2 separate regions of the Homo sapiens genome follow, and region 2 is linked to region 1. Evidence: fine-mapped expression QTL. Tissue or cell type: whole blood. Region 1 holds a variant in brackets; the other region holds the start of a gene. All regions are shown on one strand. Distances are between the middles of the regions. Region 1 overlaps DDX31 (DEAD-box helicase 31). Region 2 holds the start of DDX31 (DEAD-box helicase 31).

Region 1 (10,457 bases):
GACTCCATTGGTCATCAGGTTACTTTAAGCAAGTCAGTACTTCATATAAGACTCGTAAGCCTCTGGACCACCCTTTATTAAGTTTGTTATTAGGGGTGTTGACCTGTGACCAGACAGATCTTCATTGGTCTTGGCACACTTCCGTTCTTTTGGAACTATCATAAATTCTAGTTAAGGGGCTTTTTTGGTTTCTTCTTTTTTTTTTTTTTTTTTTTTTTTTTTGAGACGGAGTCTCGCTCTGTCGCCCATGCTGGAGTGCAATGGCGCGATCTTGGCTCACTGCAACCCCTGCCTCCCAGGTTCGAGTGATTCTTCTGCCTCAGCCTCTTGAGCAGCTGGGACTACAGGCACATGCCACCACGCCCAGCTAATTTTTTCGTATTTTTAGTAGAGACAGGGTTTCACCATGTTGGTCAGGCTGGTCTCGAACTCCTGACCCCATGATTCACCCGCCTTGGTCTCCCAAAGTGCTGGGATTACAGGTGTGAGCCACCGTAGCCGGCCTTTTGGTTTCTTTTTTAATGTTCCCCCAGATACTTCATTATGGCTCCAGGGCAGCTCTGTGGGATCAGCAGGGAGCAGATGTGGATCTGTTGGAGGAGGCAGTGTAGCAGAGTGGCTAAGAGCATGGCCTTAGGGTCATGTTCCTCATCTGTCACCAGTGTGTGACCTTGGGCAGGGACTGGACCTCTCTAAGCCTTAGTTTCTTTTCGGAGAGGCAGTGTAGCAGAGTGGCTAAGAGCACGCCTCAGGGTCACGTTCCTCATCTGTCACCAGCCTGTGATCGGACCTTTCTTTTTTCTTTTTTCTTTTTTTTTTCTTTTTTTTTTTTTTTTTGAGATGGAGTCTCGCTCTATCGCCAGGCTGGAGTACAGTGGCACGATCTTGGCTCACTACAACCTCTGCCTCCCAGGTTCAAGCAGTTCTGCCTCAGCCTCCCAAGTAGCTGGGAATACAGGCGCATGCCACCATGCCCACCTAATTTTCGTATTTTTAGTAGAGACGGGGTTTCACTATGTTGGCCAGGATGGTCTCAATCTCTTGACTTTGTGATCCGCCCGCCTCAGCCTCCCAAAGTGCTGGGATTACAGGCATGAGCCACTGCACCCGGCCTGGACTGGACCTTTCTAAGCCTCAGTTTCTTCGCACGTAAAGTTGAGATAAAATAGTGTTCTTTTAAGGACGTCAGAGGATTGTGTGGGAAATAGTCCTGGAGTCCCAAGTATAAAACATAGGACCAAAGGGCTTTTTTTTTTTTTGAGATGGAGTCTTGCTGTGTCTCCCAGGCTGGAATGCACTGGCGTGACCTCAGCTTATTGCAACCTCTGCCTCCTGGGTTCCACCGATTCTCCTGCCTCAGCCTCCCAAGTAGCTCGATTACAGACACACACCACCATGCCCGGCTAACTTTTGTATTTTTAGTAGAGACGGGGTTTCACCATCTTGGCCAGGCTGGCCTCAAACTCCTGACCTCAGGTGATCTGCCCATCTTGGCCTCCCAAAGTGCTGGGATTACAAGCATGAGCCACCACACGCGGCCCAAAGGGCATTTTTTATTATTACTGTAACTATCAGGATTATTTGTAGTCATACAAGTTAGTAGCAGATGTGGAATTAAAGCCCAGACTCAGGGACATGAATCCCAGTGCCCTTTTTTGCTGTATCATAATAAGTGGAACATTAGCATCTGCCAGCTCTCTAGAAATAAAGGCAAGTAGTACAATTACACAATGAGATAGTAAGTTTGATCAAACGTCGTCTCAGGTATACTCTTTCTGGGCCTGGCATTGGTGTCAGTCTTTATCCCCGAGTGCAGATCATTTCTCTCCAGGGAGTTGATCACTGTGTGTCTGCGCAACGCAGGGAAGCTGTAGAAGGGCAGGAAGCCTCTCCTGAAGGACACGTCCCCAGAGAAGGAGCGGAGCAGCTGCATCTCCCTCCACTCTGTCAGCAACAAGCTACAGTCGTTTTTTTTTGGTAGCATCTGCCCTTCTGTGGCCTTGCAGCATAAATTCTTCTCCTTAAGACTTTCCCTGGCTTGAGGCCAGCCTCAAGGACTTCCTGAGACTTGAGGAGTGGCTCTAACTTCATGAGTAAGAGCCAGGTCCCAGATAGATATGAGTTTGAGTTTGAATCCTTGCTTCCCAGCTGTTAGCTCTGCAATCTCAGGCAGATTATCTTCTCCCCAGTCTCAGTTTTCCCATCTGTAAAACATACAATTGCTGTGAGATTTAAATAAAACGAGGTATAAAGTGCCCTGTAGAGTTCCAGACCTCATAGATTCTTAGGTCTAGAAACTCTGTCTCATGATCTCAGCCCCAGCTCCTACCTTGATAGACAGTAGTGAATGCTTGGATATTTTTAAGGTTTGGTGATTTTTTTTTTTTTTTTTTTTAAGAAAAGCTGAGTAAGTTTGGGCTTTCATGATATAACTGGTTAACTTAGAAAGCTAAATTAACCATCCTACGTTGTAGGTGTCATGTTGGTGAAGACCTGGCTTGCTGAGCCAAGTTTAACTTGAATTCAGAGGAAAAAGAAAAACTAAACTAAATTGACTGTGTTACTAATTATCACATAGATATACACAACCCGAGAGAGTATTTTATGTGTGATTCATGTCAGTAGTAAGAAGAATAAAGTAGATGCTGGATACAACTTTTAAATCTGTTATGCGTAAGAAATAACGTGTGTCTTAATTGCTGTCCTCAATTTGAGCAGTTCTCTAGCATGTGAACTAATGCCAGGCATGTAAATGTGGGTTCAGTAGCTAGGCCTTTCGTTCAGATAGCCAGACACCTCATTACAGTGCCCCTCTCCTTCACCCAGCGTGATTGAAGCCCATGGTAAATGTCCCTTTGGCACATACATTTTTGGGCTTCTGTGAACAGAAAGAAAGCGAGTGAAGCATCTGTAAAATGTATATTTCATATTTAGGTATATAAAACATATATAGCTATGTCTGGGTGTGTGAATGTTCACCTACCTACAAAGAGAATAAATTTGATCTTTCAACTTTACTGGGAAGCACTCAGAAGGTTCTAGGGACCATGGGGGTAAAACTCAGCTTGGCAATAAAGTGATTAAAACAAAACCCTTCCATTTTGCTTAAAAATACCTTGGAAGTTGGCAATATCAAGGTGCAGGCTTTCACAAAAACCTCCCACCTTTGCTATTACTTTTTATAATAAAAATAGTCCAGCCTATTTATCTTAGACTCATCTGTTGCTTCTTGATAGGTGTGAAATCTTCATCATCAAAGTATACACACACCCAACCATGTTTTTCCTACAAGCGTTTTTGTCCTGTGAAATATACCTGTAAACTTATCCCAACAAAGGAGCCGTTGCTGGCATTGCGAGATCTTAAAATAAGTTCAGAGCCCCCTGCTCATCCTTTCTGATGGCCTGTGTTTTCCAAGATCAGTAGGATGTTAGAGACAAAGGTGCATTGCGTGCGGATGGATGGTTGGAAATGTGTTTTTCTAAACTACCCATGGTCCACTAGTTGAAGTTAGCTTCATTAACCAGTACTGACTCTGTGTCTTGGAGGGTGGGAGAGCCAGCCCTGCCAGGTATCCATGTGCCCTCAGGGGTTTGACCCGCTCTCATTATAGGAGCATTTTACCTGTCGGGGGCTGAGATGGTGCTGCATAACTCTGCCCCCCTCTGTCTTCAGTTTAAATTTAGACTGTCCTCCCCAGAAGACAACTGAAAAATACCTCATTCATTCTCAAGAGGGGCAATTTTAAAATAAGGTATTTCTGGAAGCAGGGGTTAGGGAGGAGTAAGATTTTTTTTTTCCTAAGTATTGTATATATTTTTTTCTGCCATTAACTTTTTCTTATATTTTACTAAAACTGACCTTATCATTTCAAACCTGTGAACCTAGTTCTATCCTGTTTTTTTTTTCCCTACGTATTTCGCTTGTATACACACTCACATTATATATATGTAATTTTTTTTTTTTTTGGTTGGGAAGAAAAGATGCCTCATTTTGAAACCTAAAGGGGGGAATAAGAAAAGCCCTTTGTAATATATTGCCATATTATCACTAAATCCCCTGACAGTTGTGACACAGAAGCAAGTCACCTGTCACTTAAGCTTGAGGTCTCTTTAATTTTCTCCTGGAATTCGCACCAGGCTGTCTTTAATTTGAGGCCTTTATTGGAATTCTGAAACCTCTCTGCCTCCCTGGCTCTCAGATCTATTCTGAGAGCTGTTACAGAATGTATACAATAACCAACAGAGGGATTCGGAGAGGGCTGGAGCTCTGTTTATTTAACACTCTAGAGGGATTTTTGTGCTTATTCGGTCCTGGCTGCCCGGCTTTCAATATTGCTTTGACAACCATTCTGCCCTTCTCATTAATTTTAAACAGTTAAAACACAAGAAAAAGAGGAAAAAGTTTTCATTATTAAAGTGCTTTACTTTTTAATAACAGAGGATTCTGTCCGCCAGGGGAAAGGGCATCCTCGCTAATTTCACATTCATATTAAAAAAAAAAAAAAACACAGGGAAGGTGACAGTTGCGCTGCTGAGGTGGCTTAACGAAAGGAGGGCAGCAAAAAAAAGTTTGCATTTCACATCAGTTAAGAGGGTAAAAAAAAAAAAATCCTTGTTAATGACAATAGCAAATGTCCACTTTGGTAACACGGCTCCTGAGTGACTCTTCTCCTGACATTTTAGCGGATAGAACCCTTAGGGGGACCTTGTATTGAACTGTGAAATCAGCGAGACTGTCATCAACCAAACAGGTAGCAGGAATGATTTGACTAAACTAAAAACATTTTCACGTTGTTAAGTCTCTTAATATAGAGATGAACGTCGATCCAGAGAATGAGGCTTTTTCTTTCCTCCCCTTTGTTCTTCCTCTGTCAGCCTTAAAGGTGAAAGAGAGGCTCAGGGAGTCTTAGTGAGGCCAGATGCAGGCGCTCATACACCGTCCTCTACAAGGTTAAGCAGCACGACCCGGTCTCACTCTGGATTTTCCCCGGGGGTTCACACCAGGGTGGCAGGTGGAAGTAGAGGCACTAGCACCACTCAAGTGATCAGTGTCACTTGGCAGGTTGGCCTCATTGGGTGGAAGAATCTGTGTTCTCTTGATTTCACATTCAGTAGAAAGCACTCATGTTTGTTTTACGATATTGGAGACAAAAGCCACTAGTTTTTAGCGGGGATATTTAAAAAGGAAATTTTTTTCTCTGGTACTGTTAAAGGATGAAAAGAAAATAATTGTCTATTTTATTAACATTTTCCATCTGTAGGCTCTTTGCATGCACACAGATGCTACTTCTTACACAGGGACGATTTGCTGCAAAGATCCAGGCAGTCTTTGAGTGTGTTGTCCTGGAACAGCCCACTCACTCCTTAATAGGTTCCTGGCCACAGTGGCCATGGGCTGGAGGAATAAATTTGAAACACTAGAAGTCTGAACCGCTCTAGGCACTGAGGAAGCCTGCTCTGAAATTCAAGGATGGGGTAACTTTTAAAAGCAGAATGTTAGGCAGGTCACTGTGGAGTGCTCATGAAGAGAAATTGTCGGTGTTCCACTGATGCGCGTGAGGGAAAGGTGAAGATTCCTAGGAGATCCAAGACCCATTTGAAAACAGCTCATGTTCAGTGATGTTTTAAATGTCTGAATTGGACTTGGAAAATTCCAAAGTGTCTCCAATGGTCTTTGATTTTGAACATGCATGGTAAGAGGTCAGGAAGAAAAGTAAGTAAATAAGTAAACAGACCTGATGTTCTCTCTCATAAAGCCACCCTCATCCTTACTTGACTTTGACATCTCTATAGCTCCCTTTTTTCCTAGTAATATTGAAAGGATTACCCTTGTTGGCCCTAGGTGGTTACTGTGTGATTTTACTGTTATTAAATCTATTATAAACTGCTTCATTATTCCTGACCTTGACTCTATCTCTCCTTTAATCCTTCCGTCGCCCTCT[C/G]AGAAATCCCATGCTGTTGGCCCCCAGGAAATCCGAGAGCGAGCCACAGTCTTGCAGACGGTATTTGAAGATTACGTGCACTCCAGTGAGAGGAGGGTCTCCTGGGCAAAGAAAGGTCAGTCGATTTCCTAGGTGCTTGCGCAGTGGATAGCCCAGCAGAGTGCTCTCCCCCACCTTCACCCACATACCCCCAAACCGGTTGAGAGGCCAACATGGAGGTCCCTGCTCACCAGCCAAAGCCTTCAATCTCCATAATTCTGCAGGGTTTGGAAGCAGGCACGGAAGGCTTTAAAGTGATATTAAATGTTAATTTCATCCTTCCCCATGTTTTGCACAAATGAGGCTTTATCTTGGCTTATATCGGGACTAGAGTTTTGACCCAACAACTTGGATCTTAAGGATCTGTTTTCCTCTTTCTTTGAAAACCAGATAGAAGACATGTGACACGTTAGTAGAAATAGTTGTAGAGATGGAAATTAGAGATGAAGGCCAGAGCTGGAAATATTAGACCTAAGCAGTTCCTATTTGAAGGCACAAAGAAAAACGAGAAAGAACAGTACTGAGGAAGAGCCATAGACCATGAACCCAATTCCTAGGAAATTTATGAAAGAGAGAGGTGTTGACTTAATATTCAGACCCTTTGTTGGATAAGTTGGCTCCTGGGATCACCATACATTAGATGTAGACTTCACAGTTCACGTTGAGTAATAAGCAGTGTATGGCTGAAGGGGGTTTGTAATCACTGGTACTTTTTATCATGGGATGTCTTGGCCAGAGACTGACCATGTCTAATGAGACTTACTCCATGCTGGAGTATGCACAGGGTTTTTTTGTTAGTTGCCTGCTATTTTGAGAAGAGTGCCAGGCTGGCTTACCAATATCGGAACACTGTAGCATCCTTTCTTTTTATAAATAGAAATGCTTTAAAAACCATTCATTTGACAAATATTTATCAAATCGGGCACTATTCTGAGTGCTTGGAATGCATGCGAGATCAAAACAAAAATCCTTGCTTTGTGAAGCCAACATGTTAGTGGGGTGCAGGGGCAGCAGACAGTGAACATAATAAACATAACAGATTAGTCCATTTAAAGGTGACAAGAGCTATGGAATAAGTAGAAGGAGATGGGGGAGGTGAAGGGGTGACATAGCAGAGTGCATTTTTAATGGGGTCAGAGTGAGCCTCATTGTGTAGGTGATACTTGAGCAAAAACCTGAAGTGGGATGAGCCCCGTGGCTCTCTAAAGGAAGGGCATTCTGGGCAGTGGGAGCTGGTGCAGACGAGCTCGAGGAAGGCAGTGTGGGTGGAAAGGGGGTGCTGGCCAAGGCAGAATCACGTAGGACTTTGGGTCTTGGTCGGAATGAAGGGGGAGCAGAAGTGTGGGATCTGACTTAGGTTTGAAAGAGATCACCTGGCTGCTGTGTGAGAATAGACTCTAGCGGGGGCAAGTGTGAAAGCTGGGAGCCTGGCTGAGGAGCAATTGTGGTCACCAGAAAATATAGATGAAAAAATGGGTTAGTCAGCAAATATTGTCAAGGACCTGTTACATACCTTTAGCACATTATAATTGCAATTCTTGGTTGTCGTTAAAAATCAGAACCACACAAGGTAAAAGATGAAGTCCCCGTAATTGCCATTGTATATCCTTCTAGACTTTTCTCTAATAATATCCTGTCTTGGCATTTCCCTAAAGGGAATTCAACAATTCCCAAGGGTTTTCCTACCTTGCTACCTCTAGAGGAGTATTGCTCTGTGTCTCTCAAGAGGAATAGGGTCTTTGTCACAGTGTAACTTTACAGTTTGGACCTTTGATGAAAGTTAGGCAAATTCAGCTGGCTGTGCAGTACATAACAAGGTGTTGTGCTGCTGAATTCCAGGGCTGGTATCAAAGTTGCAGTGGAAAGAAATAAATCAAACCCACACTGTCACCTTCGATTTTGGTGTCAGTGATGCCTCAGATATTTTGGCAAGACTACAACTATTTCAAGGTGTCTCGGTCATCTGAGTGGAAGTTACAGTAATTCTTAAAGGATGTGGTTTTGGGTTTTCTTTCACTGTTATTACCATTGAACTTGTTAATACCATGAAACAAGCAGGGTCACTTGTCTTTTGTTTAAGGAATATTGGAACAGGGTCACTTCCCAATGTTTATGTACCATGAAGGAAATAAACGTATCATGTCTCTTATTTGCTAATCAATTTCCACACCAGATTGATAATGGGCTGGGACAACACCGCCTCTTACAGAGCTCAGTCACCCCATTTCAGACATAAGTCTCGCCACCATTCCTTCTCTCCTGTTTCTTAGGACTGAGTTTTGGAGGCTTGAGAGAGTATACACGTATTTGCCACCCTAAATGTATTGAATTTACTGCATAGGAACAGCCACTGCACCCCATAGGTGGAGACACTCTTTTGCATTTCAATCTGCATATGCAAATTCCCCACTATTGACTTGCTTCCCTTTTATGCCATTTCAGAACCCACCTCCTGAATAATTAACAAAGCAGCTGGCTTTTGCCTTGATGGCAGAAAACTAGTTAGAAACTGGGCCAAGTATGTATTTGTTTTCCTTTTGCATTTTTGGACCCAGTCATTGTTAATAACCAGCATTTAACTGTCAGTTTCCAGAAGCAGTTACCCCTTTTTTCCTCTGTTTTCTTGCATCATTTAGCTAGGGATTCAAGTTGTAAAACGAGTGGTAACATAAGTTTGAATTCCAGATTCCCGAACAAAAATCTTGGAAGCTAGAGTCCTCTGCCTGCAAATGACCATTGCTTCTGTGGCTTAATCCTCTCCATCTTCAGGTCTTCCTGCAGACCAGGAACTCCATGTAGGATTTATGCCTGTTTGGAAGGGATGCTTCTCAAAGTCTAGAAAACCCACACCAGTGATGACAAGTCATTCTTCTCCCCTCAGTGGGGTCAGAGCTAGGCTGGGCACTTTACCAAATGCTTTGTCTTGAAGAGAACAGCAGGGAACCTCCTTTTCCTCCATCCTTTCCGTAGTTGTCGCTGTAGGTGTTGGGTGGTCTTGAAGATGCGTGTGCCTTTATTCTGTACTGAAGGGTGCTCTTGTGGGAGTGGAGGTGGGGTTGGGAGGAGCAGAGATGATCTTCACCTTCCAGGCTGGAGGTTTGTTTATTTCTGTCTCCTTCATCTTACAAGTCATCATAAGATACCACTAGTTTCTGATCCAAATGTCCAGGAATGAAAAAGGACGATGTGTCCATGTGAGATACTTGAAAATAGATTTGCCCTAATTCAGGCACCTTAAGTAGTTGGCAAGAAATAGGAATCAGTGACTGCAAAGTGCTGAACTCTGGTGGCCTGTAGCTTCATCCGTCACCCCAAATAAATGTCTGCTTTCATTACTTCTCCACCTTCCGCTTGTGTGGGTCCCACAGCCCCTGTTCCTTCTGCACATTCTCGACGCTGCCAACATGAGCACTTCCTGCTCCTTGAAAGGTTCTGCAGACAGCTACTGCAGCGTCTTTGAAATTCCTGCTTCTCTGAATTATCCAAACATGGGAGTCCATGCAAGTATGTGAGAACAACCAACTGTCGCTGTCCCCGGTGAGACAGGAGCCTTGAGGACAAGGAGGTTTAGTAAAAATATGCAGTGTGAAATGCTGCCTGGCCAGTTGTCTGGGGAGAAAACACTTCCTGCCACATCTTGGCAAACTCATTATCCCTGTAAAGCTGTTAGCTGGGCACCTACATCTCCTGGGACAGATGCTCTCAGTGCTCAGCTCATAGGATTGGTGGAGAGGAGGAGAGGAAGAGAGGTGACCAGGGTGGAAGCCCAGGGACTCATCTGCATACACAGAAGAGAGGTAGGAAATGAAGAGACCTAGAGCGGGATTTGGGTAACTGAGATTTTAAAAGTGCAGGCTCTTGGCATGGTTTCGGCTTGACTTGGTTTCGGTCTTGTCTTTTTTGAGACCAGAGTGAGTGTTGGGGGTTGGGGAAAGAAAGGTTGAGGAGAAGAGGCTTGAATCTCCTGGGTCGCGTAGCAGTAGAGCCTTTCCCTCTGAGGGCTTGGCTGTGGGGCTCTGTATCTAGTGGGGCTCTGTGTACTCCAAACAGTACAGACCATTTGAAGCGTTAAAGATTTTCTTTGAAAAAGTCCCTAGTTATTAAAAAGGGGAGTAAGCACAGATTTAAGAGTAGGGTACAGAGGAGTTGCCTTGGTTATTATTGCTCATCGATTGGGAAAAGGAGTTCACTTTACTCAGTAAATAGAGCTTTGATGGATTCCCCAGGATCCTTCCAGGAGCTGATCTGCTAAAATGACACTTTTTATTACTGTTCATAAACGCCAATCTCCAGGTGCTGCTGGGATATTATGTTTAAGCTGTGGGCAAACTTGCCAGTCCAGTGGCTCAACAAGGAGAGTGAGGAAGCGAAGGCTGGCATTCAGTGCTTGCCTCCATCAGACACCATCGGCTGGGCTCTGGCTCAGCTGGCAGAAGAGCAGGATTGGAGGTGAAGAGAGCAGTGACAGGGATGG
Region 2 (10,457 bases), 50 kb before region 1:
ACTCTCCCTATCACAAAACTGTTAACAAATCAAGTATTCAGATGCCCAAGGAGTATACTTAAAAAGTCCAGCTCCCAGAGGCCTGCCCGCAGCCAATCATTTAATTGTACACCATCCAGTTTCCAGTTGACCACTATTAGGTTGGTGCAAAAGTAATTGCGGTTTTCACCATCACTTTTAATGGCAAATACTTTTAATACTAACTGTTAGGCATTTTGTAAGCACCTGACAAAAATTCACTTGAAGCTTTTAGACAGTAAGCTTCTTGAGGACAGGTAATAGAGTCCAAAGACAGGCAACAGTTATTTAACTTAATGTAGCAGATGAAGTTAATACTTTCTAAGGCTCCTAACAATTGATGCACAATACAATTCGGTACACAAATATTATCAGAATTTGGAACTATACACAAATGTCTCACTAGATGAGTCACTAAATCAGTAGTCCAATGGGAAAAACAATTCTGACATTCTTAAATCACTATTTCATTGCTTTTCAGATTTATACTGTCCACCTTTATATCATACAATCTTATAAAACAGCTGATAATTAATGTCTGAACTATTACATAACTGCAGATTTTCCTGCAAATTCATAATCTAAATAACAGAATTATAGAGCAAAAGCTTCAAAGGTGTTTAGTACCTAGCTTTCTAACAGTGCTACACTAAAACTGTCATCTGCGCTGCAGACTGTCCACCATTTAGGTTAGCGCGAAGGCATGCTGCACGGCACCGAGCAGATTTAAATCCACAGACTGCCAATGGGTGGAGTCATCAAAGTGCTGACACAGACTTCTTTACATTCCTACCGTCACACCAGTTTTAACCCACAGAGGGCTCTTGTAGAACTGCAGGGTCAACTCAGCATTCATTCACTTCAATCAGTCTAAAAAGACTGCTAAATGACTGATGGTTTATGTGATGTGCATATTAAAAAAAAAACAACAGTACAGAAGGGGAAGATGTTACTAATTAATTTCATAGAAGCCATTTGTCAACTATAAGAGAGCTATATAAGGATTTCCTGTTACTAGTTAGCAGTTGTGGTAAATGTTAACTGAGGCAAAATGACAGTCAAAATTTTATCAGAATACTCATGTCCACAACCACGACATTAATCCAGACTCCTACTCCTTCATACCTGTATAACTGCATTATATTTTCTTTCTTTTTTTTTGAGACGGAGTCTGGCTCTGTCGCCCAGGCTGGAGTACAGTGGCGCAATCTTGGCTCATAGCAAGCTCCGCCTCCCGGATTCACGCCATTCTCCTGCCTCAGCCTCCCAGTAGCTAGGACTACAGGCGCCCGCCACCACGCCCGGCTAATTTTTTGTATTTTTAGTAGAAACGGGGTTTCACTGTGTTAGCCAGGATGGTCTCGATCTCCTGACCTCGTGATCCGCTCGCCTCGGCCTCCCAAAGTGCTGGGATTACAGGCGTGAGCCACCGCGCCCGGCCCAACTCATTATATTTTCACCTTGAGCATTTACAGCGTGCCAAGAACTGGGCCAAGTGATTATGTGTGTTTAATCTTCCAAAAAACCTAAACAACGCTTCATTATCCCCCTTTTATAGATAGGCCTATCTTGTGCCAAAGCCCAGTCTCTTCACTTTTATTTTACACTGATCACAACAATCATCTTCTTGCCTCTATCCAGTAATGTTCCTGAACCACAGCAGGTCACTCTATGCTAATGAAACTGTAACAGCATCTTAAAGACTTCCTAGATTGAAGCCAACTTCCTCATACCGACCTTCCAAGTCCACAAACTGGTCTCATCTTACTTTCTCGGACTCTCTAGAAGACCTACTTGAGCTCATGTACTGATCCGTCATTATACAAACAATAATTAATTATGTTCATGACTTAAACGTGTATGCACATGGGATGAATGCCTCATTCCTGCCGCCTGGAATGCCCTTTCCTTCCTTCCTCTTACAAACCAAACACTACCTTCTTTAGGACTGCTGCAGATTCACCACCAGATGACCTGCCCCATAAGTCTCTCCCCTTACTACTCCCTCCTTTCTTTACATTCTCTCTGCTAAGGTATTCGATGTCTACTATACTGACATACATACTTTCCTTGAGTTGCTGTGCGGATGAACATCCTTGGAAACAGTTAAATTCCTTTACAGCAGAAGATACACCTTTTAAATCACCTTTCTTCTGCCTCCCTCCTTTTGTATTTCTCAATTTCATAGGGTTGCATCTGTCTATCTGATTTGTTTACACTTGAACAAATGTGTTCATATCTTCTTCAAGAAGATCTTAGAGGAAGCTTAGTCATACAAGCTGACTAACAATCTAACAACAGAAAGATGTTTGAAACTTGAATTAAGTATGCTACAAAGTGATGAGGGTTATCTGCACCCTACCTATAGCTAATGACTCATATTTTCAATGGTTTTCCAAAATAAGAGTTTACGAACACATAAACATGTTCTCTATGTGCGGATACACATCTTTACAGTGCTTATCACTACCTGACAGGACCTTATCATTTGTGCTTGACTTGCCAAAGAATGTAAGCTTCATGAGGGCAGGGGTTCTGTTTTGTACACTGCTTTATTTCCAGAACATGGGGCAGCACCAAGCAGAATGGTATTCAAATATCTATTGAATGTATGAATATACACTGACAGTTCACATGTAAGCGTACACCTCTATCAAGGATATATGGAAAGTTTTTACACCTCTAAGCAACTAAAAGGAACGCTATGGCTTACTACTTGACCTTGCGCTTGAAGTTTAAGATAGGTAGTTGTTTCGAATCTTTATTTTCATTCAACATCCCAAAGATGTTTAGCTAGTAAAGAAAAACTAAAGTACAAACCCCGAGATCCAGTATTTACCCGTTTGCCCAAGGAGAGGCGAGGACCATTCATAATAAAGTCACTGAAACAATTAAGACAATGGATGGGACCAGTTTTTCTTTTCTGAAGCTAAAGAGGCGCGAGAGGAGGACACACACAGTAGACAAAGCCAGCCAAGAACCTCGGAAAGTCGGCCCCAAACAATAGCAGCAACGACAGAGGCAGGCCCCGGGTTGGATCTACAGGGGGTGGAGTCTCAGAAAGCACCATCGAGTAACCCGCTCCATGTGCGGGCCCGACGGAGGGGCGAAGGAGGGGTTCCTGGGACTCAACTCCGGGAAGCCCCCTGGGTGTGTACCTGTGTTTGCGGCGGCGGGTGACCTGGGGAAACAGGGTGCAGACAGCTGCAGAGCTTTTCTTTTTTTTTTTTTAAGCTGTGGTAACCCTGGCTGCTTAATAAATCCCCAGCGCTCGGTGCGAAGAGGGAAATCCCCGGACAGAGTGTGGGATCGGATTCCCCTGGGACGGATGATGCGGCCGCGAGAGGGGGACAGGGGAAGACCCCAGGGATGGCGGGGGATGACTTACTTTGAGGAGACAGCTGTTGAGCGGTGCGGGCACCGAGGTGCGGTGGATAACCAGGTCCTGGCCCGGGTTGTGCACGTCGCAGATGAGCTCCAGCACAGCGATGCTGCGGGCCGTGGACACAGACACGCGGTGGTCCTCGGACCAAGCCAGCGGTTCCAGGCCGCTCACCGCATACTGCAGCTTCACGGCCGGCTCCCGCCGAGTCACCATGAGGCGGAATGCAGCGCTGGGCCCCGGGGCCGCGTCCGCTGCTGGCTCCTTCCCGCCCGCCTCGCCGCCCCCCTCTCCCTCCTCCTCCCCAGACGGCGCAGGCCCGTCGTCCGCGGGCCCCACCCGGGCCTGGTCGGCCGTGTTCATCTTCTCTCAGGTGCAGAGGTCGGACGCCCTGGCGCTCCACGCAGTCGCGCGACCACCTCCCGGACCGCCGCCGCCACCCCCAGCGCCCTCCGCGGCGGTTTTCTCCCCTCAGGCCCCGAGCGCCGCCGAGCCAAGAAGGACCCCGCCGTTGCCAGGCAACGCGGCCCTACCAGGTGGCCAAGGAACTGCCTGTCCAGAAAAAGGACAGCGAGCGGGGAGCCCCGAGGACCCCCTTTTCCCTGCCCAGGGATTGAGCTCCAGAGCCTGTTAGGGAGCTACCCAGACAGGCTTTAGTTCCTAAAGTGCTGAGGAAACGCACGGGGCGGTAAAGGGGAGGCTCGTCGGTGAGATGGCGCCGGATCTCGCTTCTCAGAGGCATTCAGAGAGCTTCCCCAGCGTGAACTCTCGGCCGAATGTAATTTTGCCAGGCCGCGAGGGACGCAGAGAGGGGCTGCCACCAGGCGGGGGCACGCGCGGTAGTCTTGTCCCTACCCGCCCGGTGCCGCCGTCCCCGGCTCCCCTCGGGACGAGTCCGTACAGCTGGAGCCGTTCCGGACCCGGAAGGGGCGGTGGCGCAGGGTCCTCGCGCGTCCCACGTGGGGTCCCGGGCCCAGCAGTCTGCGCACCGGGCTCGCTGCTGCACCACGCGTCACCCACGCAGACCATGGCAGCCGCCGACGGTTCGCTCTTCGACAACCCCAGGACGTTCTCCAGACGTCCCCCAGCCCAGGCGAGTCGGGTGAGTTCTGACCCGGCTTCAGCTCCGTCCCCACCCGCGGCCCGGCTGTGGGCGCGCCGCGAGCTGCAGCCGTGCCTTGGAGTCGGGTTTCGAGTCATTCACGGAGTTAAGCGGGAGAAAGACACCGGGCAGCTTCGGGACAAGTTGCGCCGAAACACGTGTCTCTAACCGGAACACCACCCGCAGGGATGCGCCTGGAAGCGGGGAGTGGAGCGGTGTGGAGGGGCGGGGAGCTGGCTCCTGCGCCTAGAAAAGTAAAGGAAGGAATTAGAGGCTGTTTCCCGTGGAAGGTAGGACCTGAAGTTCCGGCGCAAGTCCCAGGCCAAAGCTTAACTTCTCTAAGCCAGTTTCCTCGACTGAGTGCGGACTAAGCTCTGATTTTTTTTTTTATCTTGCCCACATTCCTGTCTGGGAAGAGTCATGCCCTACAAACCATAAATTCTCATCAGATGGCTTTCATTTAACCCTATATATCGTGACTTACTTTCCAAACTGGCTCTGGCCTAACATTATGTGACAAAGAAGAAAGTTAAAATATTACCCCTAAACATGTTTCTTTGCCACATTTTGAAATGGCTTTGCAAAGCTGTTCTTTGGGGGGGGCGGGCGGGGTGGACATTTGCATCTGCAAAGAATCTCTATTAACATAGCTAGATCTTTTTCTTCCAGGCCCTCCCAATCCTAAAGAGATTAAGAGTCTACCACCTTTCAAAGATCTGAATAGGAAACACTTGTCTGTTGTCTCTAAGGGCAGCCACTAAAGACTTGAAAAGAACCTTGGTCTCCACAATCTTTTATCTTAACCTGAGCATTTTCTTTGTATCCATCCCAGGTGTTTAGACAAACTCAACCGTCAACTAGAAAATGTTTAAATTTACCTATAGCCTGGAAGCCCCCGCTTTGAGTTGTCCCACCTTTCTGGACAAAACCAGTGTATTTCTGAAATGTATTTGATGTCTCATGCCTCTCTAGAATGTATAAAACCAAGCCGCGGCCGGGCGCGGTGGCTCACGCCTGTAATCCCAGCACTTTGGGAGGCCGAGGCAGGCGGATCACGAGGTCAGGAGATCGAGACCATCCTGGCTAACAAGATGAAACCCCCGTCTCTACTAAAAATACAAAAAATTAGCTGGGCGTGGTGGTGGGCGCCTGTAGTCCCAGCTACTCGGGAGGCTGAGGCAGGAGAATGGCGTGAACCCAGGAGGCGGAGCTTGCAGTGAGCCGAGATCATGCCATTGCACTCCAGCCTGGGCAACAGAACGAGACTCCGTCTCAAAAAAAAAAAAAAAAGCTGCACCCCGACCACCTTGGGCACATGTTCTCAGGACCTCTCGAGGGCTGGATCATGGGCCATGGTCACTCATACTTGGCTCAGAATAAGTCTCTTCAGATATTTTTGAGTTTAACTCTTTTGGTCGCCATGAGGAAGGTTCGTTTGTTTCAGGAATGAGGACTGGCAACTAGGAGTTTTTTTGAAGAGCTTTCAAAAATGGGACAGATTTTCATCCCCATGCAATGGAGGGGGATAGGAAAATCGGTTTCATTGATATAATCCCATTGCTAGAGAGGGGTAAGATGCCCTAGAATTAACTTAAGCAGTAACTGAAAACTGGTTTCTAGGATAGTTGATTTGTCTCTTAGAAAAGAGGACTACAGGACAGAAAGACTGATTAAAATCATAAAGTGATCATCAAACTTTAGGATTTAGATGTTTGGCAGTAAGGAGTCCAGCTAGCCAAGTGTAGCTGCATCTGGGTGGAGCGGGGAGAAGGATAGAAGAGCCACTGGGAGCATGGGATTTGGAATAGGATACACTTGGGATTCGGATGCTGCCCTTGCTGCACACTAGCTCTGTGACCTTGGAGCAAGTCACTTAATCTTTCTGATTCTCACTTTTCCTATCTATAAAATGAGAACAATAATTTCTACTCCATAGAAGACTATTGTAAGGATTCATTGAGATAGTATACATGAAGACTATACGTTGTCTGGCCCATAGAAGCACTTAATAAATGCCAACAGTATAAAGTAGTTTTGGCTCCATTTTGGATAATAGATTGCTACATCAGGAGGTCAGTGGGGTGCTTGTGTCCTCTGCAGAGCCTGGTAACTAACACATAAGAAGCATTGAGTAAATACATATAGGCTACCTAGTTTTATGGTTATCAAAAGGGGATTAATTAATGCAGTGATGACAGGTGTCTGCGGTGGCCTTGTCTAGATCTACGTTTTTTGTTTTGTTTTGTTTTGTTTTTTTGAGATGGAGTCTCGCTCTGTCTCCCAGGCTGGAGTGCAGTGGCGCGATCTCTGCTCACTGCAAGCTCTGCCTCCTGAGTTCACACCATTCTCCTGCCTCAGCCTCTTGAGTAGCTGGGACTACAGGTGCCCACCACCACACCCGGCTAATTTTTTTGAATTTTTAATAGAGATGGGGTTTCACTGTGTGTTAGCCAGGATGGTCTCCATCTCCCGACCTTGTGATCTGCCCACCTCGGCCTCCCACAGTGCTGGGATTACAGGCGTGAGCCAGCCAGGCCTAGATCTACATTTTCATTGATGTCGTGAATGAGAATGATGGATATGCTGATGAGACTTGCCAGTAGCCTGAACTTGAGATGGGTAGCTAATATACTGGATTTAGAAAGACTAACAGCTTAAATTATGCTGTATCTAACACTATGCAGAAATTTTCTCTCTAAAAATACTTTCTGGGCTGGGCGAGGTGGCTCACACCTGTAATCTCATCACTTTGGGAGGCCGAGGCAGGCAGATCACTTGAGGTCAGGAGTTGGAGACCAGCCTGGCCAACACGGTGAAACCCCATCTCTACTAAAAATACAAAAAAAAGGCTTGGCGCAGTGGCTCACGCCTGTAATCCCAGCACTTTGGGAGGCCGAGGCCGGTGGATCACGAGGTCAGGAGATCGAGACCATCCTGGCTAACACAGTGAAACCCCGTCTCTATTAAAAATACAAAAAATTAGCCGGGTGTGGTGGCTGGTGGTGGGTGACTATAGTCCAAGCCACTCGGGAGGCTGAGGCAGGACAATGCTGTGAACCCAGGAGGCGGAGCTTGCAGTGAGCCGAGATTGCGCCACTGCACTCCAGCCTGGGCGACAGAGCGAGACTCTGTCTCAAAAAAAAAAAACAAAAACAAAAAACAAACACAAAAATAGCTGGGTGTGGTGGTGGGTGCCTGTGATCCCAGCCACTCGGGAGGCTGAGGCACGAGAATCACTTGAACCCAGGAACCAGTGGAGGTTGCAGTGAGCAGAGATCACTGCACTCCAGCTGGGGTGACAGTGTGAGACTGTCTCAAAACAAAAGCAAAACAAAAAAAAATTTCTGATATTAATACAAATTTATTATAGAAAATTAGGAAAAAAGATTTTTAAAAACCCACTCATAATTGCCATACTCAGACAATGCTTGTTGCCATTTTGGTGTATGTCCTTTTAGAGAACAACTCAAAATTGGAATCACTACACATGATGTTTTCTTTTTTTTTTTTAACTTATCAAAAATTAAGAATTATTATGAAGCTCTATTTCTTCAGACAGTCTGGAATAAGGTGCAAAACTGTACAAATTGACCAGCAAAGGAGAAAAGAGAGCCCAGAAGCAGACCAATACAAAAATGGAAATTTTATTCATGACCGAGATGACACTGCAAATTGCTTAGGAAAAGCTGACATTTTTAATAAGTGGCACTGGAACAATTGGTTGTGTGGTTGTGTGAATTTAAAAACTGAAATTGGAACCTTATCTCGCACTATGTATAAAAAACCAAATCCATGTGGATTAAGACTATACAAGGCAAAACTATAATGTTGAGCAGAAAGAGTAAGTTTCCAGCATACACATGTTTTCTAAAGCAAAGAGGATGCAGTTAATAAAAGGGATTATAGTATTGTTGTGAGGCCTCTAGAATGTAGAATCATGATGCCTGGGGAAAGCCTGGTTCCTTCAGTGATTCTGGGACAAATTACGTCACATCTCTGCCTCCATGTTTGCATCTTAAAATGAGATGATAACAGTACCTGTGTTGATAAATGAGAGAATACATGTGAGTACTTAGTATACTCCTTGGCATATAGTAACTACTCAGTATGTTTATTAATATCAAAGCCATGGCATCTTAGACTCTCAGGTCTTGATGGGCCCTAGAGGTCATCTGCCAAAATCCCCTCATTTTACAGGTGCGGCAACAGAGACTCAAACGAATTTTTTAGTAGATTTTTAGTAGATTTTAGATTTTTAGTAGTAATTTTTAGTAGATTCAGATATGTCCTTGCTCCCTCTCTGCTCAGAGGCTACCTCACGAAGCATTCTTGGTTTTCTTGCCTCCCTCTCCTTTGCCAGAAGGAGGCCATGTTAGTCTAGCTTTTGTTGGTGCTCTCATAGCCTTTTTTATGTACCTCTTCTGTAGCACCAATGTAGAGGTTGGATTTATGCCTTTATACTTTTGTCTCCTCTGCTAGTGTGTAACTTCCTCAAGGGCTTGGCAAATCTACTTTGTATCTTCAGAACGAAGCTTCTTGACAACTGCTAAATGAATGTGTTTTGGATGCTGGGGGAGAAAAGCTAACAAGTAGTAGAACCGTATCCAGCTGGTGGAAAGGGATAATTCCATTGTGTGTTATTCATTCATCTTACAAGTATTTGTTGAGTGCTTACTCTGCCAGACAGGGGCCTATACAGGGGATACAGTGCTATGTAGGACAGACTGGCCCCTTTCTTGTGGAGCTTACAATCTAACGGGAAAGACAGACATAAAACAACGAGTTCCGTGCTATGCTTATTATTTTGTCGAATGCTATGGAGGAGAATACGGGTGCCAGGAGAGCCAAGAACAGAGCACCTTGGCTTGACTGGGTGAAGAGAGGTCAGGAAAGGCTCTTCTGAGGAAGGAGTTGGTCAGCCTCCATCTGAAGGATGAGTACAGGGTGGCCAGCCAGAGGGCAGAGTGGAGTCCTGGATGTGGGAGTAGCATGTGCAAAGGAGGAGGAAGGAGCACAGCACATTCTAGGAACTGAAGGAAGACCCGAGTGGCAGAGAGTAAAGCTGAAGCTGGTGAGGTGGCCAGAGGTCAGATTCTAGAAGGCTTTGTTGATCATATTACAGTTTTTTTTTTTTTTTTTTTTTGAGCGAGGGTCTTACTCTGTCACCCAGGCTGGAGAGCAGTGGCATCATGGCGTCATCACGACTCAATCCAGCCTTGACCTCCCGGGCTCAGGTGATGCCCCCAACTTAGCCTCCAGGTAGCTGGGACTACAGACATGCACCACCATGCCCAGCTAATTTTTGTATTTTTTTGTAGAGACAGGGTTTCACCATATTGCCCAGGCTGGTCTCGAACTCCTGGCCTCAAGCAATCAGCTCACCTCAGCCTCACAAAGTGCTGGGATTACAGGCATGATCCATGGCACCTGGCAATATTACAGATTTTTTAGTTCAGCCTAAGAGCAATGGAAAACCTAATGGGTTTAACTCTGAGTACTTGCTTTTAGAGAGATGTTGACATAGGAATAAAGGGTGACCAAGATGATAAAGGATCTAAAGTTGTGTCCTGTTTGAAATATTGAGTCCAAAGAAGAAAGAAAAGAGAGTTATGTGATATATGAAGGAATGTTATGTGTTAAGAGGAAGTAAGCTTGTTCTGTGTTGCTGCAGAAAGTATACCTCAGACTATTAGGTAGATGTTCAAGGATGCAGATCTTGCATAAATGTCAGAGACAGCTTCCTGATTCCTAGAATGGGTCATGAACAGAATGGGCTGCCTCATGGGATGCAGGAGGTGTGCAGGGAGAGGCTGCCAGTCCACCTGCCCGGGACTGTCAGGAAGTCCATGTATGGCGGGAGTGGCCTTTAAGAGTTTTTGTGCTCCAGGAGTCCTGGGTCTGTAAATCAGGTGAAGTCTGCACATTTCATACTGTCTTGCAAATGATTCAACAAAC

What was found. PIP is the estimated chance that this variant, and not a neighbour inherited with it, causes the effect.
Region 2: DDX31 starts here. The variant in region 1 is fine-mapped to the expression of DDX31 in whole blood (TOPMed, PIP above 0.99).

The regions. Positions count from the first base shown.
Region 1 is chr9:132,613,932-132,624,388 of GRCh38, reverse strand. It overlaps DDX31 (DEAD-box helicase 31), which reads left to right. Exons shown (of 20, transcript NM_022779.9): 18 at 5,948-6,059. Among named protein-coding and RNA genes, the nearest start is that of BARHL1, 37 kb to the right of the region's middle. The variant C/G (reference allele first, on the strand shown) is at 5,945.
Region 2 is chr9:132,663,905-132,674,361 of GRCh38, reverse strand. It overlaps DDX31 (DEAD-box helicase 31), which reads left to right and starts at 4,379. Exons shown (of 20, transcript NM_022779.9): 1 at 4,379-4,502. The coding sequence starts at 4,428. It overlaps GTF3C4 (general transcription factor IIIC subunit 4), which reads right to left and starts at 3,898. Exons shown (of 5, transcript NM_012204.4): 1 at 3,407-3,898. The coding sequence starts at 3,763. RefSeq lists enhancers at 746-795, 3,890-3,969, 3,655-4,522 and silencers at 3,610-3,739, 4,160-4,309.